Linked DNA regions of Homo sapiens. The gene in region 1 interacts genetically with each later gene. Each region holds a gene or a part of one and is shown in the gene's direction. Other genes may lie near its edges. The genes, in order: POLR3B, CTNNBL1, DUT, NUBP1, GET3, GEMIN2 and GPN3.

Region 1 (3,500 bases):
ACTGAGGTTCAGTGAGGCTAAGTAACTTACTGAAAGCTAAAGAGTGGTGGAATCTGTTTTTTATTTGAAAGTCCTTAGGATTCGTTTGACGCATGATTTTGCCCACTATAGTCTGTTGCTACAAACTGAGCTTTAAAGGAGGAGTAGGATTGTGTTAACTTGGAGGTAGGTGGGGAGGAGAAAGGCTGAAAAAAGGCAAGAATGAAAACATGGAGGCATGAAGAAATAAAATAACACTAGATCCAATGGAAAAGTAGGTTCCTTTTATTCATTCAGTAAGTATTTATTAAGGGCCTATTGTGCACAGGTACTATCTAGGAGCCGGAGGTACAGAGACGAATGTGACATGGTGTCTGGTTTGAGGGGCTATGCAGAGACATCAGCTGAGGACATTGCCTTGTGTCACAAGCCTTTTCTAGCATTACCGTAGTTATTCTGTGTATACCTCGGGTAGTGTTGAAGCACAAGGCAGTGAGCCAGCAGTAGCTGGAAGTCTGTCAGAGCTGGGAGAGTGACTGCATGCTTTCTTTCCTCCAGCATCCTTTCCTCCTTCATATGACACTACCTCATTTTCTTTTGAGGACTGCCTGTCCCCATTGGCAGGCTTCTTGGGATGGTCAGTCCAGCACCCTCTTCTCTTCAGCCAGGGGTTGGGCATATGACCCAAATGAGGTCAGTCAGACCCCCTCATCAGAGAATTTGAATCCCAGGTAAAATAAATCAAGGGAGGGAGGTGGTTGGACTTGATTCATTCTCCCAGTGCTACATGCAAGAGACTGCCTGTTAAACCTCATTTTCTGGATTCTTGGAACTGCTCTCGTTCCTTTTCTTTCTGAGGCTGAGCATTTCACCTTTTTCTTTGATTCTTATCCTTCCATTAAATTATTTTTTTTTTTTTGAGACAGAGTCTCACTTTGTCACCCAGGCTGCAGTGCAGTGGTACGATCTTGAGTCACTGCAGCCTCCGCCTCCCAGGTTCAAGCGATTCTCATGTCTCAGCTCCCCACCCCCGTCCCTGACCCAGTAGCTGGGATTACAGGCACACACCACTGCCCCTGGCTAATTTTTTGTATTATTAGTAGTGATGGGGTTTCACTGTGTTGGCCAGGCTGGTCTCGAACTCCTGGCCTCAAGTGATCCACCCACCTCAGCCTCCCAAAGTGCTGGGATTACAGGTGTGAGCCATCGCACCCAGCACCTGTAAATTCTTAATGCTTCCAGTAAACTTCATTTTTGCTTAAATTAGCCAGAATTGGTTTCTCTTCTTTGCAACCGAAGAATGGTTAGCTGATGATATACCTGTGTTTGAATCCTAACTTCCCACTTACTGAGTTGTGTGACTCTGAGTATACTACTTCAGTCTCTCAGCCTTGGTTTCCTTGGCTGTAAAATGGAAACAATAATGCCTGCCTAAGATTGTCCTGAGAACTAGTTGATAGAAGGTGTGGTAAGTGCTCAGTAGGGTGCCAGGCACACATTAGGTGCTTATTTATAACTTAATAGCATGGTCCAGTTAAGGGCAGGAATAACAGTGACATTTTCTAGGTTACTCTTTTTTAGGATTTCATTACATCCAACATAATATATATTCAAAAATAAAACTCTTTTATAGAAGCAACTTTATAATGGCATAACAGATCTAGCAGGAAAAAATAGTAGAATGCGTTGAGTAACGTAAGGATAACTGAGGCAGCTAAATGTGATCCCCTCCCTCTCCTCCGCCGGTTTCTGTCTTCTCATCTGAGGCTTAACCTGAATCCACTGCAGCGCTCAAATGAGGCATTAGTAGGCTCTGCTTCCCTACCAAGAAGGAGCCAGAATTTCGAGGTACTGTGGATTTCCATGAAAAGCTCACCCAGTTCATTTTTCAACAACTTGTGTTCCCCTTTTGTAATTGTGCAGCTCCTCTTCTTAACTGTTGAAAAGTGCTCATTAGTCCTCAAATAGTTATTTGGACTTTAGGGTAGAGCGCACAAGTGTCTGGTGGTTACTTGCTCCTCTCTGTAAGAGCTGCTTATCCAAATAGCAACAGCCCTTGACGTTTCAGTGCCGCATGCCATCCTTTGTGTCCGGGTTTCCTCATGGTGGCAAAGCCCTCCGAGGCAAGTCCCCACTGACAGTTACAGGTTAATCTGCCAGAATGCCTTCTCCACCTTCCACCCATTACGTCACTGAAAACCACAAAGTAAGAAAGCTTCATTCTCTGCCAACTTTTAGCCACTCTCTTTGGTAATGTGTAGCTTTAAGTATCTTGCTAACCTAGCTCAGTGATGTTTAGACTAAATCAAACTACTCTAAACATCTGGATATTCATCAGAACCTCACAACACAACGCCGTTATTACCCTAGGTGACAGTGCTTCTTTGCCTGTTAACTCCATGAGTAGTATGCAAAATTTTCCAATGTGAAATCGGGAAGTTTTTAGATTGATACATTACACCGTTTTTTAAAATATGGCATTAAAGGTTTTGTTTCCTTTTCAGACTTTGAGTATCATTTTTGTGTTGCCTTTTCATTCAAAACCAAATGTTTCCTAAGATACTTGCAGGAAGCACTGTGTGTGTGCATGAATATGTCCACACATACTCACATGTACACATGGGCTTGGGTATGTATGTGTGTGTATGTGAGAGAGAGCATAGTCCCCTACACCATGCTCATCCATACAAAAATTACCTGGTGTCCTCAGCAATCCAGGAATAGGTTTGTTTGTATTTACATCTTCCCTCATCTCACTTTGGTAAACTAACTTGCCTGTGTAATTTTTCCCTGGAACTATTATTAATTTGGTTTGCTGTTTCCATTCTAGACCCTACATAATTGTCAAGAAACAGAAGCCAGCAGTCACAAATAAACATATGGAAGAGCTGGCCCAAGGGTACAGGTAAGTAGCCAAAAGTAAAACTTACCAATCTCCTTAATACCCACATACATGATTTAAGAAAAGTGTATTTTCATTTTAGTGTTTTAATTTCTTTCCACCAAATTACCAGCCTGTTAAAAACCTATTTTGCTCCATGTGAACTTGCTTGGACATTGTAAAATATTCATCAATTTAGATCATGAGGGTTACCTAGTCTTGATGTCAGTTAGTACACAAGTAAGTGTTTCTGGTAAGAAAAGGACTTACATCATGTGTCAGTGTAGACACTGTGGGTCTCATTATGAGGTTTCTAAGGTCAGAATTTTTTTTTTAAGAAGTGGGGACTAGGTTCACAAGAGTTACAGACAGACACTTTGCTGTTTTTATTTCAGCAGTTTGTGGTTACTGTGTGAGCTAAGAATAACATGTTTCAGGTATCCCAATGTAATGATATTCTCTGGGAGAGAAAGGTGCTTTGGGCCTAAACGAAAGCCAGTATCTCCTGTTATTATATAAAATACTGCAGAAAAATGCTTTTTAATGATGTCTCTTTCACCAATATTTTCCCAGGAATTTTGAAGATTTCTTACATGAGAGTCTGGTTGAATATTTAGATGTGAATGAAGAAAATGATTGT
Region 2 (3,500 bases), on another chromosome or scaffold:
CCCTCTTCCAGGGGACACTAAGCCATTCACTGCCTGTGGGCCAGTCGGATATCCCCTTTCCAGAGAATGGGTGATGTGACTGTTTGCTTCTTAGCACAGTTGGAGTGACACAGGAGACTTGCGCATAGGATGGGTGCTCTGTGTACCGTCGGCATATGTAAGCGAGGCCTCGGCACAGGTGATTCGGCAAAGGGATTGATGCAGGTGTGGGTTCCCTCTGCTTCGTACATCCCTAGAAAGAACTCAGGGAAGCCGGCTTTACTGTTGGAAAATCACTGCCCCACAGCATCGGACTGTTTCTCCACTTCCCTCTCTCCTGGGTCTGAGAAGACATTAGGAGAGCAAAGTGTTAGCTCAATCCATTAAGACTCCTGCTTCCAGACCATGCCTCCGGGGATATTAGATGCCATAATGGTCATTTCTCTCTCTCCTGGGGCAGCAACTATATCATTCACATGTGAGTAAGAGATACCACTTACACACAGCCCCAGAGCCTTCTGCCAAAGCTCAGTTCCTGTCTCCATCACCCTGGCCCTCTCTCTAAGGGGCCTTAATAGGAGGCATCACAACCACTTGCTGTTGGAGGTGATGGATGGGCCTAACAGAAGAGGATTTCTGGGGGTAGACACACAGCTGGCACATGCCTGAATCCCACATCCCATTTTCTGGCACACGACCAAAGTAATAAAGAGGAACGGGGCAAAATAAAGAGGTAGCAGGAGCAAAATTACTTCCCCAGCATTGGCAGGGGTGGGGCTGACAGGGGAGGGGTGAGAGGTCACATGCTTTGTCTCCCCAGTCTTTGTCTGGTTTGGATCAGCAGGTGTTTTATTATGCAAAAGCCTCTTACTAGAGAGTTCTCTCCATTTTCTTTCTCAAGCCAGGCCCCAGTAAGGGACCAGGGGGCAGAAGTGCAGGCAGCCATCCTAGTCACCCACTGCAGGAGATCCTTCAGCACGACACTCTGCTGGGGGGCCCTCGGCCAGGCTTAGCTGGGAGGAAGGCGAAAGCCCCTGCCTTCATGCAGCTCTCTGTCTAGGGAGAGAGGGGCTGGGTGGAGGATGGTCTAGCAGTCAGGCCCACATGTGCTGGAGGCAGTGGCCTGGGGCCGGGTGTGGGAGTGAGAGGTGACCAGGCAGGCTTTCACAGAGAAGACATCTCAGGAGGGGACCCGGAGGAGGTGTGGGACTTCCCCAGTGCCATTACTGGCCTGAGCAAAGGAGGCTGAGGGAGGGAACTAATGTTCCCTGGACGTTTGTTATTTGAACATTTTCAGAGGGGACCACCCAAGGGCACAGTTGTGAGTCAGAGCTAGGATTTGATTGCCTTTTCCTCTCTGGCTGTGGGCAGGGGACAGTCAGAGGGCAGTGAAGGGTTGGACCACCCCATCCTCCCCCTTCCCCTCCCACCAGATCCCCTACACTTGCTCTAGGAGCCACCGCAGGAAGTCCAGAGTCACCAAATCATCCCTCGCCATCTCCTAAAAAAAAAAAAAAACAGGGTGACCATGTTATTTTGGGGGACGAGGACACTAAAAAAAAAGAAATGGCGTCTTAAGGATCACTGTGCTGGGACAACAGGGGAGACAAGAACACAAGCCTGCCCACCATGACACTCTCTGATGGCATCCTCTGCTGATCTGTTGCCAGAACTGTGCCCAGAGCCTCACCCTCCTCAGGAATATTTCCTTTCTCTTCCTGGTCTCACTGAAACCTGGTGCTCCTACACCCCTCCTGCCACTGGAGACATAGGAGGGGTCTTCCATGCTCCAGTACTTCTAGACTATTCTCTCTCCCTCCCTTCCCCGAATACACCCAGCTGTCGAAGTTTGTGTCGGGGGACTGCACCCCCCGACAGCCCCTCCCTGTTGTTGGCACCAGCACCTGTGCCCCCAGTCCTTGCGGGGATTCTGGGCTCACTGTCAGCCTCCCCAATGCTCTTGTCATATTTCTTGGTGATTGCAACATCCATATCTCTTTCTCACACCCCATTTCCGGTCTATCTGTAAATCCTATTGGAGCCACCCTCAGAAAACATCAAGAAGCTGAAGACGTCGCCTCACCTCCACCGCTACCTGCCCAATCCAGGCCACTGTCACGTCGCATCTCCTTTCCCTGCCTTTGCTTCCCCCATGGTGTCCCCCACACAGCATTGAGAGGGATCTGGCAAAAGTCAAATCACGTCATTCCTTTCTGCTCAGGACCCACCGCACAGAAAGGCCACAGCCCTTACCGTGGTGCACAGACCCACACCATCTGGGTATGGCCCCTCCCGTGGCTCCAGGCTGTGGCCACGCTGACCTCTTCGCTGACCCTCAGATAAACCAAAGAAGTGCCTCCCCTTAGATCCTCTGCCCTGGCTGCCCTGCCACTCGCTCCTAGACCTTTCCACACTCATCTCCTTCTGATCTTTAAGCAGATACTCCCTGCTGACAGCCACCTGTGTATTTTGTTCACTTTTTGGTTTGTGACCCTCACTAGAAAGTAGGCTCCACACAAGCAGAAATTTGCATCTGTTTCTATCACTGCTTTATTCCCATTCCCAAAAAAAGGTTCTCAAACTGGAGCATACATCAGCATCACCTGGAGACTCAATAAATCCCAGATCACTGGGCCCCACCCGTTTCCTGTTAAGTGGGTCTAGGGTGGTCCCAAGAATTTGTGTTTCTAGTAAGTTTCCATGCAGTGCTGCTGCTGCTGCTGCTGCTCGGGTCCACACTCAGAACCACTCACCCAGAGCAGTGCCTGCCCAGCTGGTGTCTGTCTTAGTCTGTTCGTGCTGCTGTAACAAAATCCCTGAGACTGGGTAATTTATGAAGAACAGAAATGTACTTCCTCACAATTCTGGAGGCGGGGGGTCCAAGAGCACTGCCCCAACCTTTGGTGTCTGCTGAGGGCCGTCCTATTGCATCCTCACATTGCAGAAGGGGGAAGGGCAAAGGGTCTTGAGAGTTCCCTGCAGTCCTTTTGCAAGGGTCTAATCCCCCTAGATTAGACCTAATCTAGACCTAATCTAATCTTATAATTAGATGGTAAGAACCTAATCACCCCATAAAGGCCTTCGATGCGTTGAGGATGAGGTTTCAGCATGAGTTTTGGAGGGGACACAAACATTCAGACCTTAGTAGCATCCACGCCATGTGTGTTGAGTGAATAAATACATGAGGGCGGAAGTGAAGGGTGTGGCTAGGAGGGGAATCCAAGCATGGAAAGGTAAGTTGGGACCTTTCCACTGAGGCCTCAAAGGCAAGACCCCAAGGAATTTGGCTACAGTGGGGGCATTAGGGCGACTTGCACCTCTGTGGGAGCTGGGGTTCTGGGAAAGGTATGAAGCGACGCAGCCACGGTGGATGCCATGCCTGGGATCCACTCCTGACTCTATCTTTGTCCCCCTAGAGTATGCAGAGAACATCGGGGACGGCCGGAGCCCGGAGTTCCGGGAGAACGAGCAAAAGCGCATCCTGGGCTTGCTGGAGAACTTCTAGAGGCACCTTGGCCCTG
Region 3 (3,500 bases), on another chromosome or scaffold:
CACAATACCACCTATGGAGAAAGCTGTTGTGAAAACGGACATTCAGATAGCGCTCCCTTCTGGGTGTTATGGAAGAGTGGGTAAGTCATTTAAGAAACAGGTAACTATTTGTCAAGTTCTCCTTTGTGATAGATTCTTCATGTTTCATTTGGGGTAATAAGCAGGCAATATTGCTTGGGCTGTGTCCTAAAAGAAGCACCATTTGTGATAGCAAATGCACTCTTTGAAAGGCTTTATTTACATCTCTGCTTTGCCTCTTTTTGACCCTTTTATTTTTCTCCTTCCTCACTGGAGCTTTTAGGCTCACACTGGCCTAGAAGGCTGTTCTCAGAACATGGCATTTTATATTATGAGAGTAAAACTTCTGACCTGTTGGTCCCAGAATGTGTAAGCCTACTTAACCTTTTCTTGTTTGGCCATGGGGTTAGGGTAAGGGATACTCTTCAGTGTTGTAGAGGCACTGGGAGGAGCTAGGACAAAATGGAGTACACGTCAACAGGTTTGATTTTTCTGGAGCGGATCAGTTGTTACCAGACAGTTCTTTGCAAGAGCGTAAGTTCTTTTTGACTAACTTCAGAGTAAACATAAAGGAGGCAATGGAGCTGTGACGCCCTCCTCCAGGGAAAGGAGCTAGACTGGCACTATATTATTAGCCATGAGTGAGGAAACTGCCAGTACTTCAGCCCTTAAAAGATAACAAGATGGGCTCTCATCTCATCTCTTGAGCATCATTGACTCCATTTTTTAGAATTTTTTCAGGGGAAGGGGCAGGAGATGGAGTGAAATAAAGGTTAGTACAGAAAGAGGCAGCATTATTGACAAAGTGCCTGATTTAAATTATTCTAAAATAAAATGCTGGAAGTTAGGATAATTAATTATAGGCCTGATGCTTGAGTCTGCAATAATAAGGTGTAACCTTAGCTTTTTATTTTTTTCATTTTTTAGGATTAAAAAGTATACTAGCATTGAATCATTGAGACTTAGTTTTTGGCATTTTTACTTAACTGATATTAGCCCATTTATCTTACTCTGGTTCATGTGTTTCCTACAGGCATGTCTTTTGGCATCTGAATCATGAATAGTGGGGTCCCAAGTTGTAGGCTATGGTCTGCTACTATTTGGTTAGGTTTGTTTCCCTCTCCCTTCCTCTTCCTTTCCCTTCCCATCTGCATTGTACATGTTGTGGTGTCCCATCTTAAAACCAAAGTCTTCTTCCTCAGTAGTGTGTTCCTGCTGGCCATACTTCTCTTTCTTCCCCTTTGAGGCTTAACTTCTTGAAAGAGCAGCCTACAGTTGTTCCCGCTTGCTCACCTTTCAGCTCATTCTAGCAGTCCTTCTCCCCTGTCTGCAGCACCACAAATTCTGACTGAAGTCACATGGGAGTGGTTTAAGTTAGTTTTGAATTAAAACCTTGTGGAATTTTTCTAAACTAGTCTTTCCAACTTTGGTAATGCAGTATGATGAATATATATTCTTTAATTCAAAACCATGTGCTAAAGTTAAGATGAAGATATAGATATTATAGGTGAAGAGAATGACATGCTTAAATTGCATCAGTTATCTCTGATATAGCCCTTCCCCCTTAAAATAACCAATGTCTCCTTTTTTGTTTTTTAGCTCCACGGTCAGGCTTGGCTGCAAAACACTTTATTGATGTAGGAGGTAATATATTTCCTTTTTTATTCTGTAAATGTTTGCAAGTATTTACTTTGTCTTTAAAAGGTAATATTCAAATGACAGATTTTATTTTTAAGAAAAGAAAATGATTAGAGGAAAGCTTGTTATAATAGGAGGAAAAGCTTTGTGGTTATTTTAAGTAATTATATTTTGTTTAACTACTAACTTAATTTTTAAAATAATGATTACCTAATTAATAATGACAGATTTAATGATATAATAATTAAGTAATTATTTAAGCAACAAAAGTTCTAGAAAACACAGGTCTATCTTGTAAGAATTTTCTTCATAAGAGAGCTATCTGTCTTTAGCAAAATTTAAGAAGAAAATCTTTCCCTGAAGTCAGGAGAGAAAACACTTTTCTCTAAATTTGTTAAGACAGTCCTCTGTGTTACCTGTTTCCCTTATAATAAAGCCTTTCTCATGTTTGTCTCAAAGTTAACCCTACCTCATGTGGTACCTTTCATGAAGAACCCTCAGTGTCCTCTGCTAACTACTCTTGATACAGAGCTACTCCTCTTATTGTAAGGAAATTTCTACTTTCCTGATGTGGTTTCCTTGTTTCAGGTCCGCTCCAACTGGGATTCAGACCCCACTTATGTGGTCCTTACATACTGACCCTTTATCCCATCAGTAGTGAATCTTTCACTTAACAAGATACCTTGGCCCCCACATAAGTAGGTGTGCTAGATCTCCTCCTCCACCCGTTTTTACAGAGCTGCTTTATGGAGGCTTGTTAACAGATCAGGAAAACTGGCTTAGAAATGAGCCCACATGGATATGTGGTAAAAACTGGAGTCTCTGTGTGATTCCAGCCTCCTTGTTCTTTCCACTGCAATTAATTGTGGAGATTACCCTGCTGCATCCCCCTCACCAACTAAACACGTCCAGAATTAGCTCACTTTTATGTGCCACTGCAAGGGCTAACTAAGCACTTAATGAAACCTGGCTATCCTAGACCTGCCCCTTAGTCTAACATTTGGTGGGTGTGGTGTCTCTCCATAGTGTCACCAGGTGGTGCTGTGGGACAAGACAGGACCCCAAAAGTACACCCTTTAGGGACTAAAGGGGAGCTGAGTTTTACATAGCAGGGTGGACATTGACAGCCCACTCTTGGGTTGAGGATTCCTTGGGCTCTGTAAGTTATGCCCGATGTTCAAAAATGCTTTTACAAGGTCAACTGTGGTCATTTTGGGACAGTAACTTAAGGATATAAATAATTGTATATATTTTCAATGAAGTTTCAAATGATTGTTCAAGGAACGGGAGCTTTGGAATAACAACTGGATGTAGGTCCCAGCTCTGTCATTAACTAGTTATTACTTAACCTTTCTGAGCCTGTTTCCTCATTTTACAATGGAAATTAGTGTGCCTGCCTCTAGAGGTAGGAGGATTAAATGATAATGTGTATGAAATACCTAATATAGTACTTGGCACATATTAGATTCTGTGAGATATAATTTCTGTCCTTAGGGACTTCACAGATTGTTTTTATGTGGAAACTTTTTCTTTTATTCGACTTTGTTACTAATTTTTGCTCTGTTTAAAACAACTTTCTGGAAAAAAATTCATGTAAAAGAATGGAAAGTTAGTTTGCCTAGTGGTTGGTATGGTGTTATTCATAAAATCACATTGTGGTGTGTTCTTGGATGCAGAGAATCTTAACAATCTCCCTTAGGCACAAGTTTATCATAGTTGGCAACAGTTTTTATTTCTGAAGAGAGATGTTGTTAGAAATCCCAGGCTCTAAATAAGGGTCAAAGGGAAAAGTTGAGCATTCAGGATTCTGTTCAGAATTCACATCTGGTAGGTGTGGATAGTTT
Region 4 (3,500 bases), on another chromosome or scaffold:
GGCTTATTTGGGTCAGAGAGGTGAGATCAACAGGAGGTTGATCTGGTACTGAGACTTAAGGTAATAATGTGAAAGTGTTATCAGGGCAAGCTTTAGCCTCAGCACTATTGATATTTTGAGCCAGATAAGTCTTTGTTGGGGGGAGGAGTAGACCGTGTTCTACACCATAGGGTGTTAAACAGTGTCCCTGGCCTTTACCCACAAGATGCCAGTAGCACCCCCTACTCTATTTGTGACAACCCAAAATGTCTCCAGACATTGCAATTCACTCCCAGTTGAGAGCCACTGACTTACAGCATAGACCAAAGGCACAAAAAGATCAGATCATGCTTCTCCGTGAGCTGGGCACAGTGGCACGCACTTATAGTCCTAGTTACTTGGGAGGCTGAGGTGGGAGGATTGCTTGAGCCTCAGAGTTAAGAGCCAACCTGGGCAACATAGCAAGACCCCATCCTTTAAAAAAAAAAGAGGGAGTTGAAAGTACAGAAAAGAAAGGAAAAGTAAGCATCCCCTGTGGATTCCTCTTTCTAGGCATGATCAAGCAGTTCCTCCGAGATGTGGACTGGGGAGAGGTCGACTACCTCATTGTGGACACCCCACCTGGGACGTCGGATGAACACCTCTCGGTCGTCCGGTACCTGGCCACAGCACACATCGATGGAGCAGTGATCATCACCACTCCCCAGGTGAGCGAGCTGCCAGCTGGAGCTGGGTCCAAACTGTGCTCCACACTGTGAGATTTCTTTCCTACCTGGCTCTGATACTCTGGTCTCACCAAGGCTCTTCCCAGTGTGTGTTCCGCAGCTGCATCTGATGTGGGTCTGCAGAAACCTCGTGTTAAAAACTTCAGCCAGCACAGTGATTCACACCTGTAATCCCAGGACTTTGGGAGGCTGAGATGGGAGGATCACTTGAGCCCACGAGTTCGGGACCAGCCTGAAAAACATAGCAAAACCCCATCTCTACAAAAAATATTTTAAAATTAGCCAGGCATGGTGGCTCGCGCCTGTAGTTCCAGCTACTTGGGAGGCTGAGGTAGGAGGATCATTTGAGCCTGGGGAAAGGAGGTTGCAGTGAGCCATGATCACGCCAGTGCAGTCCAGCCAGCGCAAGCGAGTGAGGCCTTGTCCCAAAAGATAAAAATAAGAAAAACTTCATCTTTGGTCTAGACATTTGCAGCTGACAACCATTCAACGATTTGGTTTTTTTTTAGTCCATGGATTAAACAATAGTGGGTCAAGAATGCTTTTTGAACTTTCCTTGAGGAAACTAGGGAAACCACCAGTGCAGTTATAATTCATACTGTGCTGCCTGGCCCCGTCAGCCTTGCCGTGTCCATGTGTCAGGTCCCCCAGCCTACAGTGGATTTTCCGTTTACATCCCAGGATGATTTAGGAAATCTCTCCAGTTTTCAACAGAACCAGCTGGGTGCAGATAGGGATTTCGGGATAAGCCACTGGGTGCCTTCGCTTCTTCCGTAGTGACACCCAGCAACCCTCTGTAGCAGTCACCTAGTGGCTGTACTCCAAGGCCCATGGTGAGCCCGAGCTGAGAGGAGAGCGATAGGAAGTTTCCTCTCTGTAAGTCCTGCAGAGAGCAACTGCAGGCAGGACCATGGTGCTATCCATCTCAGGGGCCTGAGAAACTGAGGGCTCTTCTCCATCTCCACAGTTACGCCTGACTTCTCTTCATGACGTTCTCCTCCACACTTAAGAAAGCCCAGCAAAGGAGGTTTGATTTGATCTCACTGGCCAGAATCAGTCAGGACGACCCATAGTCTCACCTCATCCAGCACTCACTGAGCTCTGACTCTGACATGCCGGGCACCAGGGCAGTAAAAAGGCCTGGCTCTCCCTGGTGGCCCCTGTGGCTCCCTGAGGAACACAGGTGCTGGACACAGGGATGAGGGTACAGCCAATGGAGTGGCAGGCCCAGCGGCCATGGGAAGGGTGTCCGGGTCAGAAAATGGTGCAAGATTCATGTCCACCCTGGCATCCTGCAGAGAGGGGACATGGGGACGCAAGGAGGAGCAGGACACCAGCTGGGACCCTGGACAGGAGGGAGGATGGCCTGGCCCGGGTGATGGCAGTGGAGAGAAAGTGTATTTGTCCTTAGGAATGTTTTCTGTCCCATTTTTAAAAAGTGGTTGGTGCTGGGCACACTGGCTCATGTCTGTAATCCCAGCACTTTGGGAGGCCGAGGCAGGCAGATTACTTGAGGTCAGGAGTTCGAGACCAGACTGGCCAATATGGCAAAACCCTGTCTCTACCAAAAAAATACAAAAATTAGCCAGGCGTGGTGGTGGGCACCTGTAATCCCAGCTACTTGGGAGGCTGAGGTGGGAGAAGTGCTTGAATCCAGGAGACAGAGGTTGCAGTGAGCCGAGATCGCGCCACTGCACTCCAGCCTGGGCGACAGAGCAAGACTCTGTCTCAAAAAAAGAAAGAAAGAAATGAGAGACTGAGTCGCAGCCCATTGACTTTCTAGCTGAGCGCCCCTTCCTCCGCATCCCAGCCTCAGTGTCAAGAGCCAAACAGGCATCTCAGGAAAAGAACAGGCCCAAAGCTGCGAGCCTTTCGGGCTCACGTGAGTGGTGAAGCTCCAGGTGCTAAGGAGTCACTACACCTGACAGTGACAAGCCACAGCAGGACTTGGGTACAGGGATCTGTGATAACATTAACTGAGGAAAATAGGGAGCTACTGAGCGGTGTTTATACACAGTAATCACATTGGAAAAACTCAGAGTTGAGAAGGAAATGCAAAGTTGTCCACATTGGGCAGTATTCCTTATTTCCTTTTAGTCAGTTGTTTGTGTTTATAATTATCTAGAGCAGGGATTGGCAAACTTTTCTGTAAAGGGCCAGATAGGAAGTAGGCGTTGCGGACCCCACGGTCCCTGTCCCAGCCCCTTAGCCGTGCCACTGTGGCATGAAGCAGCCACAGACGGTGCCTAGAGGGACGGGCATGGCTGGTTCCGGAGGAACTTTATTTATAAAACCAGCCAGATTCAGCCCCCAGGCTGGGGTTTGCCAAGCTCTGGTCTAGAAAACAGTGCACACACTGGCTTAATATAGTATAGTATAGGGACATGGAGCATGTAGATGCGTTAAAAGGTCATTTTCAGATAGGCACAGTGGCTCACGCCTCTAACCCTAACACTCTGGGAGGCCGAGGCAGGAGGATCACTTCACACCAGAAGCTTAAGACCAGTCTGGGCAACAACCATCTCTATAAAAAATTAAAAAGTTAGCCAGGCAGAGTAGCACATGCCTGTAGTCCCAGCTACTCTGGAGGCTGAGGCAGGAGGATTGCCTGAGCCCAGGAGGTCAAGGCTGCAGTGAGCAATGATTATGCCACTGCACTCCAGACTGGGCAGCAGTGAGATCCTGTCTCTAAAAAAAAAAGTCATTTTCTTTTAGGTTGATTTCTTGCTATTTGGCTGTGTGGGAAGTAAATAGCACCTCGAACAAACAGGGCTTAGCACTAGTAGGTACTAAATA
Region 5 (3,500 bases), on another chromosome or scaffold:
CTGGGATTACAGGCGTGAGCCACCACGCCCGGCCAAGACTCCATCTCAAAAAAAAAAAAAAAAAAAAAAATTAGCCAGGCATGGTGGGGCATGCCTATAGTCTCAGCTACTCGGGAGGCTGAGGCAGGAGAATTGCTTGAACCCAGAAGGTGGAGGTTGTGATGAGCTGAGATCGCGCCACTGCACTCCAGCCTAGGCAACAAGATCAAAACTCCATCTCGGGAAAAAAAAAAAAAAAAGAGGGAGGCATTGAGTCTGAGACTGGCCAGGGACCCCAGCCATGGCCATCCCTTCATAGATTCTACATACATGTTTGTGTTTTGTTTTGTTGTTTGTTTTTTGAGACAGAGTCTCCCTCTGTCACCCAGGCTGGAGTGTAATGGCGTGATCTCGGCTCACTGTAACCTCTGCCTCCCGGGTTCAAGCGATTCCCCTGCCTCAACCTCCAGAGTAGCTGGGATTATAGGCACCCGCCACTATGCATGGCTAATTTTTGTATTTTTAGTAGAGACGGGGTTTCACCATGTTGGCCAGGCTGGCCTCAAGCTCCCGACCTCAGGTGATCTGCCCGCCTCCGCTTCCCAAAGGGCTGGAATTACAGGCATGAGGTACCGCGCCTGGCTGGATTCCCCATATGTGCTGACGACCTCTGTGCCAGGCACTGTTCATGCTAAGCGCTAAGGACACAGCAGTGAACTAGATGGTAAAACCCCTGCCCCTGAGGGGCAGACATTCCTGCTATGGAGACAGATGATAAACATGATAAGGGAATCATGAGGGATGTGAGGAAGGGCTAATTTTTTTTTCAGATAGGTCTTGCTATATTGCCCAGGCTGGTGTCCAACTCCTGGGCTCAAGCGATCCTCCCATCTCATTCTCCTGAGTACCTGGGACTACAGGCGTGAGCTATCCTGCCCAGCTCCTAAGGGCTAAACCTTAAGGAGAAAGGAAGGCAGGGCAGGGGTGTCGGTGGATCTGTGCTGTTACTTAGGGTGGTCAGGGAGTCTCTCAGTGGAGGGATGATGATCCGGAAGAGGTCATGGCCCAGTCATGGGAGTATCTGGGGTTGCAAGTGGCAGGTTGCAAGTGGGGAGTAGCAGTGTAAATGGCCCGCAGTGGGTTTCAGCTTCCCTTTGAGGGCCCTGGGCACAGCTTGCAATTTTCCCCTTGTTTTTGACCCTTTATGCAACCATACAAAACCCTAAGTACTACCTCAGGGTCCCCCCAGCCGTGACCTAATGAAATGCCTGTGGTCACAGCCCACCACAGGCTCCCTCTGGCCCTGTGCCCGGGTAGGAAGGCTCCCCCTGGCCCTGTGCCCAGGTGGGAAGGCTCCCCCAGCAGTAGCAGCAACCTCAGTCTCATCCCTTTGGCCCCCAGGAGATTGACCCCAGCCTGGGCGTGGCGGAGCTGCCTGACGAGTTCTTCGAGGAGGACAACATGCTGAGCATGGGCAAGAAGATGATGCAGGAGGCCATGAGCGCATTTCCCGGCATCGATGAGGCCATGAGCTATGCCGAGGTCATGAGGTCAGGCCCAGCCAGCAGGGGTGGGGGCTGCCTGGGGAAGGGGAAGAGCGGACACAGAGGGCCTGACCCCTGTCTCCCCTCAGGCTGGTGAAGGGCATGAACTTCTCGGTGGTGGTATTTGACACGGCACCCACGGGCCACACCCTGAGGCTGCTCAACTTCCCCACCATCGTGGAGCGGGGCCTGGGCCGGCTTATGCAGATCAAGAACCAGATCAGCCCTTTCATCTCACAGGCAGGCGGCGGGGGCCCCCACCTGCACCATCCAGGCAGCCGGGAGTGGGAGTAGGCCCGGGCCCCCAGACCCTCAAATGCGCACTAACAATTCCCTTTCCTTCCCACCCCTTCTCACTCTGGACTTCTCCCTGGAGGGGATGGGACGGAGCTGTCTTTCCTCCCCCACAGGCAGGACTCAGTGTCCCTGCCCCTGCCCGCTAAATACCCTAGACAGAGCCAGAAAGCACATTCCAGAACCAGGCAACCTGCCTTCAAACCCTCTACACTCACCATGTGACCCAACTGCTGTGTGACCTCAAGCAAATCACTTCACCTCTCTGGGCCTCACCTTCCTTGTCTTGCAAATGGAGATCATGAGAGTGCCCCATGGGTTATTATTATTATTATTCGAGACGGAGTCTCGCTCTGTCACCCAGGCTGGAGTGCAGTGGTGCGATCTTGGCTCATTGCAACCTCCACCTCGTGGGTTCAAGTGATTCTCGTGCCTCTACCTCCCAAGTAGCTGGGACTACAGACATGTACCACCATGCCCAGCTAATTTTTGTACTTTTTGTAGAGATAGGGTTTTGCCATGTTGCCCAGGCTGGTCTTGAACTCCTGGCCTCAAGCAGTACACCCACTTCGACCTCCCAGAGTGCTGGGATTACAGGCATGAGCCACTGTGCCCAGCCCCCATGGGTTATTATTACGATGACAACCCTAAAGCCCCCACAGTGCTGCACACCACCAGCACCACCCACCATGGTGTATGTGCACGTGTGGGTGTGTGCGTGTCCCCTGTGGGGACCTGTGCCTCAGGTGGTAACACTGAGCACTTACTGTGTGCCAGACACTATTCTCAGCACATTATATGCTTCAGCTCATCTGGTACAACAGATCTGGGAGGTAAAGTTTAGAGATGGGGAAACTGAGGCTCCAGGAGGGTCAAGCCCCTTAGCTATGGTTCCCTAAAAATGGCAAAGCTGAGGCCGGCCGCAGTGGCTCATGCCTGTAATCCTAGGACTTCGCAAGGCCGAGGCAGGTGGATTGCCTGAGGTCAGGAGTTCAAGACCAGCCTGGCCAAAATGGTGAAACCCCACCAGTACTAAAAATACAAAAATTAGCCGGGCATGGTGGTGCGCGCCTGTAATCCCAGCTACTCAAGAGGCTGAGGCAGGAGAATCGCTTGAACCCAGGAGGCGGCGGTTGCAGTGAGCCAAAATCACGCCATTGTACTCCAGCCTGGGCAACAGAGTGAGACTCCATTTCAAAAAAAAAAAAAAAAGAAAGAAAGAAATGGAAAAGCTAGTATTTGACCAACCCCAGGAATCTGCTTATGGGCCTGAGCCTTTAACCACTGGGAGGTATCAGGAGTCATCCCTCGGGTGTTTAGTGAACCCCCAACCCAGGAGGTCGCCGCAGGTAAGCTATGAGCCCTCCCACATCCCCCCTGCAGATGTGCAACATGCTGGGCCTGGGGGACATGAACGCAGACCAGCTGGCCTCCAAGCTGGAGGAGACGCTGCCCGTCATCCGCTCAGTCAGCGAACAGTTCAAGGACCCTGTGAGTGGTGGTCTGGCTGGCGGTGAGAGGCCCGGGGGCTGAGGACAGGGGCAGACCCCGCCCCTCACTGTCCTCTCTCGTGCCCTGTAGGAGCAGACAACTTTCATCTGCGTATGCATTGCTGAGTTCCTGTCCCTGTATGAGACAGAGAGGCTGATCCAGGAGCTGGCCAAGTGCAAGATTGACACACAC
Region 6 (3,075 bases), on another chromosome or scaffold:
AATAGGAAAAACAAGAACATTTTTAAAGTGAATCAAAGTTTGATCTGGAATGTTGGGACTGCAGGTTTTTTCTTGTGCTTGTGGTATTCTTCACAGTTTTTCTGCATCAAATATGTATTCATTTTGTAGCTGAAAACCCCATTTTAAAAGGGAGTGGGGATACATTGAGCCTGTCAAAGTATTTATAAAAGTGTCAAAAGATTATTTCATCTGTAGTATAGTTTCTTTGTATGTCCCCAGAGGACAAAATTATACAATTATAAAATGATTTCTATATCTGTCCATACAGAACAAAGAAAAAAATGTATCTTAATTTTTTCCAGTATTTATATTCATCTTAATGTAGTGTTCTGCTTACAAATGAGAACTTCCTATCATAAGAATATCTGAAACAAACTCTTTGGAGATCAGGGAATATTTTGAGGTATCCAATGTCCTGTGTCTGTAATTATAGGATACAAGAGATAACACCTGGCTCTCCAAATGAGGCTTTCTTGTCTATACCCAAACATAATATAGTTAAATGTTCTATGAATTTATTCATAGCAGATAATCAGGCATAACATTGGACATTTAAAAAATAAACTTCTGGTTCAGTATTTGTCTAAATATTAATTTTTTGAATTTTTTTTTAGGGAAGATGGCTTTATGCTTTATTGGCTTGTCTTGAAAAGCCTTTGTTACCTGAGGCTCATTCACTGATTCGGCAGCTTGCAAGAAGGTGCTCTGAAGTGAGGCTCTTAGTGGTAAGTTGCAACTTACTGTTTAAAATTAAAAGCACCCACCAATTTATATGGTGGTAAAGAAGGAGTTCAGTGAAATAGGAAAACACATGGAATATTTTATTGGTGGCAATTAGATTTGTAAAGCCCAAAATAATAGTAGCTTAAATAATATGGAAATGTTTTCTGAGATAAAGAAGTCTGAGCCGGGCGTGGTGGCTCACACCTATAATCCCAGCACTTTGGGAGGCTGAGGCGGGTGGCTCACCTGAGGTCAGGAGTTTGAGACCAACCTGGCCCACATGGTGAAACCCCGTCTCTACTAAAAATACAAAATTTAGCTGGGTGTGGTGGTGGGTGCTTGTCATCCCAGCTACTCAGGAGGCTGAGGCAGGAGAATCGTTCGAACCCAGGAGGCGGAGGTTGCAGTGAGCTGAGATTGCACCACTGCACTCCTGCCTGGGCAACAGAGCAAGACTCTGTCTCAAAAAAGAAGTAGGTAAAAAAATTAGATTTTTACTAAGATGGCAGTAACCCACCCACACCTTTGAGTTTTGTCATATGTGGCTTTCATCCTCATGCTCATCTTATGATCCAAGATGGCTGCTGTAGCTTCAGCCTTTTTTTTTTTTTTTTTTTTTTCTTTTATTGTGAGATGGAGTCTCGCTCTGTCACCGAGGCTGGAGTGCAATGGTGCGGTCTCGGCTCACTGCAACCTCCGCTTCCCAGGTTCAAGCAATTCTCCTGCCTTAGCCTCCAGAGTAGCTGAGATTACAGGTGCCCGCCACCATGCCTGGCTAATTTTTGTATTTTTAGTAGAGACAGGGTTTCACCATGTTGGCCAGACTGGTCTCAAACTGCTGACTTCAAGTGATCCACCTGCCTCAGCCTCCCAAAGTGCTGGGATTACAGGCATGAGCTACTGCACCTGGTGTGTGTGTGTGTGTGTGTGTGTGTATATATATGTGTGTGTGTGTGTGTGTATATATATATATCTTTATATATATATCTTTATATAATTCAGTAATGAATATATATAAGAACAGTAAGAATCCTGTGTCTTGACTGTACAGTGATTAATATATATTATATATATTCATATATATTCTATATATATCCTCACATATATTGTATGCATTATATAGAGGAACAATAAGAATCCTGTGTCTTGACTACAGTGATAAATATATTTATTCATATATGTATATTAATATATATTTATTATATATGAATACATATTCACTACAGTTAAGACACATATATAATATATATGAATATATATATATATATTCATCACTGTACAGTTAAGACACAGGATTCTTATTGTTCCTTTAGTAGGAACCAGGGAAAAATTTCCCCCAAGTTATCCCCCTTAGATCCCTCTTTATTTTTTTTTCCCTATTCAGAATCTTTATTTAAAAGATAGTCTTAGATGTTTCTCAAGGAATCATTAACTCTACAGTTCTCTGCTTTTTCTTTGAGGGCTCCTATTTCCACATGATGATTACTGTCATATAATAAAGTTTTCATGTTTCGTGTTTTACATCTTAATAGAAAATTTATTTCAAAAGTAATAGGAACAGACAATATTTAAATTTTTCTTTTTTTTTTTTTAGGATAGCAAAGATGATGAGAGGGTTCCTGCTTTGAATTTATTAATCTGCTTGGTTAGCAGGTATAGTTAATCCTTGGCTTCTTTATTATTTATCAGTGAGGTCAGTGAGGTTAGATCGTATTTATTACATTTGGTTTTTGTTTGGTTGGTTTTTTTTTGAGTCTCACTCTGTTGCTATAGTTAGGGTGCAGTGGCGCAATCACAGCTCACTAGAGCTTTAACTTCCTGGGCTCCAGCAATCCTCCCACCTCAGCCTCCTGAGTAGCTAGGACCACAACCAAGCACCACCACACCTGGCTAATTAAAAAAAATTGTTCGTAGAGACAGGGTCTCACTATGTTGCCCAGGCTGGTCTCAAAACTCCTGGGCTCAAGCGATCCTCCCACCTAAGCCTCCGAAAGTGCAGGGATTACAGGTGTAAAGCCACTGCATTCAGCCTGCATTTTTGTTTAATTGCCTGTGTCCTGCGTTCATTTTCAGTTGTGGCATATTTTTATTTAGTATCTGTTTTATTTCATTTCTTACATAGAAATTCTTCTTGGAATTTATTTGAAAACTTTTTTTGTTGTTTTGTTTTGAGACAGAGTCTCGCTCTGTTGCCCAGGCTGGAGTGCAATGGCACCATCTCGGCTCACTACAACCTTCACCTCCTGGGTTCAAGCAATTCTCCCCCCTCAGCCTCCCAAGTAGCTGGGCTTACAGGCACCTGCCATCATGCCCGGCTAATTTTTGTAATTT
Region 7 (3,500 bases), 4.0 Mb from region 1:
CACTACCTGTTGCTTTAACCTCTCATGCCTTGTGACATTACAGAGCACCTACTGTGCCACCATGGTCCAGCACTGTGAAGCCCTCAACCGGTCTGTCCAAGTTGTAAACCTGGATCCAGCAGCAGAACACTTCAACTACTCCGTGATGGCTGGTAAGTCCTGAGCAAAGGCTCCCCCCACCTTCAGGAACAGTAAGGGCTGGGGAGGCAGTGAGTACTAGCTGCTTAGCACTGATACTTATTATAGTCTGGATCCCTGGTGTTATGGTAAATAGCATGAGCTTGTCATTTGGTCACATCTGTTCATGGTGATATGTGTGACAGTATCCTTTCTTGGTCTTTGATGTAAGATTTAAAAGTAAATGGGGCCGGGCGCGGAGGCTCATGCCTGTAATTCCAGCACTTTGGGAGGCCGAGGCGGGTGGATCACGAGGTCAGGAATTTGAGACCAGCCTGACCAACATGGTGAAACCCTGTCTCTACTAAAAACACAAAAAAATCAGCTGGGTGTGGTGGCATGTGACTGTAATCCCAGCTACTCAGGAGGCTGAGAAAGGAGAATCGCTTGAACCCAGGAGACAGAGGTTGCAGTGAGCCGAGATTGCGCCACTGCACTCCAGCCTGGGCAACAGAGCGAGACTCCATCTCAAAAAAAAAAAAAAAAAAAGTAAATGGACACTTCCCTCAGCACCCTTTCATTCTGTCCCTTTTGTCCTTAGTCCTGCTGTAGTGAATCATGTGGTATATTGCTGATCACTATAAGTCAGGAGCCTGGGTTTGTTTTTTTTAATTCTTTCAATTTGTTCATTCAAGTGTCTGTTGAACACCTGTTTTACGCCAGACACCGGAGTTATAGCAGAGAATAATACAGACATTATCCCTGCCCACACCAACCCTTTAGGAAATAGGCAATAAACAACATGATGAACATGTTACAGAATGTGATGACTGCAGACAGGCTCATGAGAAGTACTCATTGAGGTTGCTTTAGCTAGAATTGTCAGGGAGAATGGTGACTCTGAGGAGGGGATCTTTGAGCCTAGACCTGAAGGATGGTAATATGCTCCTCAGGCTGAGGAAAGTCCTTCCAAAATGAGGGAACATTTAGATCAATAAATATGCCAAGCTGGGTGCAGGGACATGTGCCTGTAGTCCCAGCTACTTGGGAGGCTGATGTGGGAGGATCACTTGAGCCCAGGAGTTCAAGTCCAGCCTGGGCAACATTGCAAGATCCATCTCTGAAAAATAAAATAAATAAATAAATAGCCTGGAGGTGAGAAAGGATTTGGTATTCTCCAGGAAAGCTAAGATGTCAGTGAGCTAAAGCGTAATGTCTGAAAGAAAGAAGTGGGTAGGGGCTAACAGGACATGATAAGATGGGATTTTATCCTGTTGTCAGTGGGGTGCCACTAGAGGGTTTTAAGAAGAGGAAAGGATTGACATTTGATACACGTTTTGGGGTTTTTTTTTTTTTTTGAGACAGGGTCCAGCTCTGTCGCCCAGGCTGGAGTGCAGTGACACAACCTCTGCCTCCTGAGCTCAAGCCATCCTCCCATCTCAGCCTCCCAAGTAGCTGGGACTACAGATGCGTGCCACCATGCCTGGCTAATTTTTATACTTTTTTTTTTTTTTTTTTTTTTTTTTTTTTTTTTGTAGAGACAGGGTTTCACCATGCTGCCCAGGCTGGTCTCAAACTCCTGAGCTCAAGCAATCTGCTGGCCTCAGTCTCCCAAAGTGTTGGGATTAGAGGCGTGAGCCACTGCATCCGGCCTTTTTTTGTTTTTGTTGTTGTTGTCGTTTTGTTTTTGAGACAAGGTCTCACTCTGTCACCCAGGCTATATAGTATAGTAGCCTGATCACAGCTCATTGCAGTCTCAACCTCCTGGACTCAAGCAATCCTCCTACCTCCCAAGTAGCTGGGACTACAGGCACACACTATCATGCCTGGGTAATTTTTGTATTTTTTGTAGAGGCGGGGTTTCTCCATGTTGCCCAGGCTGGTCTCATTGCCCAGGCTGGTCTCGATTTCCAGGCTGGTCTCAAACTCCTGGGCTCAAGTGACTCACCCAGCTTGACTTCCGAAAGTGCTGGGATAATAGGCATGAGCCACCGCACTTGGCCTGATTTATGTTTTAAAAAATAACTCAGGTGCTCAGATGAAAAATGGACTCTAGTGGGTTGAGAGTAGAAGTACAACCTGCATGGCTGGGCATGGTGGCTCACGCCTGTAATCCCAGCACTTTGGGAGGCCGAGGCAGGCGGATCACAAGGTCAGGAGATCAAGACCATCTTGGCTAACACAGTGAAACCCCGTCTCTACTAAAAATACAAAAAACTAGCCGGGCATGGTGGCGGGCGCCTGTGGTCCCAGCTACTGGGGAGGCTGAGGCAGGAGAATGGCGTGCACCCGGGAGGCGGAGCTTGCGGTGAGCCGAGATCGCGCCACTGAACTCCAGCCTGGGCAACAGAGCGAGACTCCGTCTCAAAAAAAAAAAAATACAAAATTAGCTGGGTGTGGTGACACATGCCTGTAATCCCAGCTACTCTGGAGGCTGAGACAGGGGAATCGCTTGAACCCGGGAGGCAGAGGTTCTGGTGAGCCGAGATCGTACCATTGCACTCCAGCCTGGGCAACAAGAGCAAAACTCCATTTTAAAATTAAAAAAAGAAGTACAACCTGCACTGCCGCTGTTGTAGTTAGCCAGGTGTACACCAGGACTAGGGTGGTCACGGTGGAGATGTAAGGAAGCAGACAGATTCAATATATTTTGCAAGTTGAATTAACAGCATTTTGTGGGGGATTGAACCAAGAAGGCATAGCAAAGTAAGGAATCAAGGGTGAGGTCTTACAGCTTTGTTCAGTGTATGATATAATTTCCTGTGGAGGGAGACAGGTCGTTTTAGGTTTGGGGACGTTCTCTTTGCACTCACTAAGTGCAAAGGGAAACTTCTGATTTCTGTTAATGAGTGAGCAGGTTGCGGGGAGGCAGATTGAAGGGAGAGGAGGAGATGTGAAATGCTTTTCTTTGAGAAAAAAGGCATTGTATTACTTTGGAACCATTTGGCTGCAGCAAACAGAAACCACTCTAAGCTAGCTTAGTTAAAAAGAGGACTTAGGATGGGCGCTATGACTGACACCTGTAATCCCAGTACTTTGGGAGGCCAAAGCAGATGGATGGCCTGAACCCAGGAGTTCAAGACCAGCCTGGGAAGCATGGTGAAACCCCATCTCTACAAGTCAATACAAAGATTAGCCTGGCATGCTGGCGGGTGCCTTTATTCCCAGCCACTCAGGAGGCTGAGGTGGGAGGATCACTTGAGCCTACGAGGTCAAGGTTGCAGTGAGCCATGATTATGCCACTGCACTCCAGCCTGGGCAGCAGAGTGAGACCCTGTCTAAAAAGAAAGAAAGCCAGATTGATTGTCCCAATTTGGATCAGTTATCTGTTATTGATTGCTGAGGGAGGGGGTAGGAAGGTGTTGTCAGTATAAATGTGACTG

The links.
Region 2: changes in POLR3B (region 1) and CTNNBL1 together harm fitness more than expected from each alone (negative genetic interaction), as found in Homo sapiens cells (one large-scale study listed by BioGRID).
Region 3: changes in POLR3B (region 1) and DUT together harm fitness more than expected from each alone (negative genetic interaction), as found in Homo sapiens cells (one large-scale study listed by BioGRID).
Region 4: changes in POLR3B (region 1) and NUBP1 together harm fitness less than expected from each alone (positive genetic interaction), as found in Homo sapiens cells (one large-scale study listed by BioGRID).
Region 5: changes in POLR3B (region 1) and GET3 together harm fitness more than expected from each alone (negative genetic interaction), as found in Homo sapiens cells (one large-scale study listed by BioGRID).
Region 6: changes in POLR3B (region 1) and GEMIN2 together harm fitness less than expected from each alone (positive genetic interaction), as found in Homo sapiens cells (one large-scale study listed by BioGRID).
Region 7: changes in POLR3B (region 1) and GPN3 together harm fitness more than expected from each alone (negative genetic interaction), as found in Homo sapiens cells (one large-scale study listed by BioGRID).

What each region holds. Positions count from the first base shown.
Region 1 is NC_000012.12:106,434,248-106,437,747, forward strand, and holds part of POLR3B (DNA-directed RNA polymerase III subunit RPC2), read left to right. Parts: intron 1-2,809; coding exon 2,810-2,884; intron 2,885-3,433; coding exon 3,434-3,500. UniProt on the Homo sapiens protein: Catalytic core component of RNA polymerase III (Pol III), a DNA-dependent RNA polymerase which synthesizes small non-coding RNAs using the four ribonucleoside triphosphates as substrates.
Region 2 is NC_000020.11:37,868,530-37,872,029, forward strand, and holds part of CTNNBL1 (beta-catenin-like protein 1), read left to right. Parts: intron 1-3,395; coding exon 3,396-3,484; 3' UTR 3,485-3,500. UniProt on the Homo sapiens protein: Component of the PRP19-CDC5L complex that forms an integral part of the spliceosome and is required for activating pre-mRNA splicing.
Region 3 is NC_000015.10:48,334,429-48,337,928, forward strand, and holds part of DUT (deoxyuridine 5'-triphosphate nucleotidohydrolase, mitochondrial isoform 1 precursor), read left to right. Parts: coding exon 1-80; intron 81-1,617; coding exon 1,618-1,662; intron 1,663-3,500. UniProt on the Homo sapiens protein: Catalyzes the cleavage of 2'-deoxyuridine 5'-triphosphate (dUTP) into 2'-deoxyuridine 5'-monophosphate (dUMP) and inorganic pyrophosphate and through its action efficiently prevents uracil misincorporation into DNA and at the same time provides dUMP, the substrate for de novo thymidylate biosynthesis.
Region 4 is NC_000016.10:10,757,342-10,760,841, forward strand, and holds part of NUBP1 (cytosolic Fe-S cluster assembly factor NUBP1), read left to right. Parts: exon of another isoform or gene 1-531; coding exon 532-686; exon of another isoform or gene 687-936; intron 937-3,500. UniProt on the Homo sapiens protein: Component of the cytosolic iron-sulfur (Fe/S) protein assembly (CIA) machinery. Required for maturation of extramitochondrial Fe-S proteins.
Region 5 is NC_000019.10:12,743,997-12,747,496, forward strand, and holds part of GET3 (ATPase GET3), read left to right. Parts: intron 1-1,380; coding exon 1,381-1,529; intron 1,530-1,612; coding exon 1,613-1,763; intron 1,764-3,200; coding exon 3,201-3,308; intron 3,309-3,398; coding exon 3,399-3,500.
Region 6 is NC_000014.9:39,131,323-39,134,397, forward strand, and holds part of GEMIN2 (gem-associated protein 2), read left to right. Parts: intron 1-635; coding exon 636-746; intron 747-2,338; coding exon 2,339-2,397; intron 2,398-3,075. UniProt on the Homo sapiens protein: The SMN complex catalyzes the assembly of small nuclear ribonucleoproteins (snRNPs), the building blocks of the spliceosome, and thereby plays an important role in the splicing of cellular pre-mRNAs.
Region 7 is NC_000012.12:110,461,758-110,465,257, reverse strand, and holds part of GPN3 (GPN-loop GTPase 3), read left to right. Parts: intron 1-43; coding exon 44-152; intron 153-3,500. UniProt on the Homo sapiens protein: Small GTPase required for proper localization of RNA polymerase II (RNAPII). May act at an RNAP assembly step prior to nuclear import.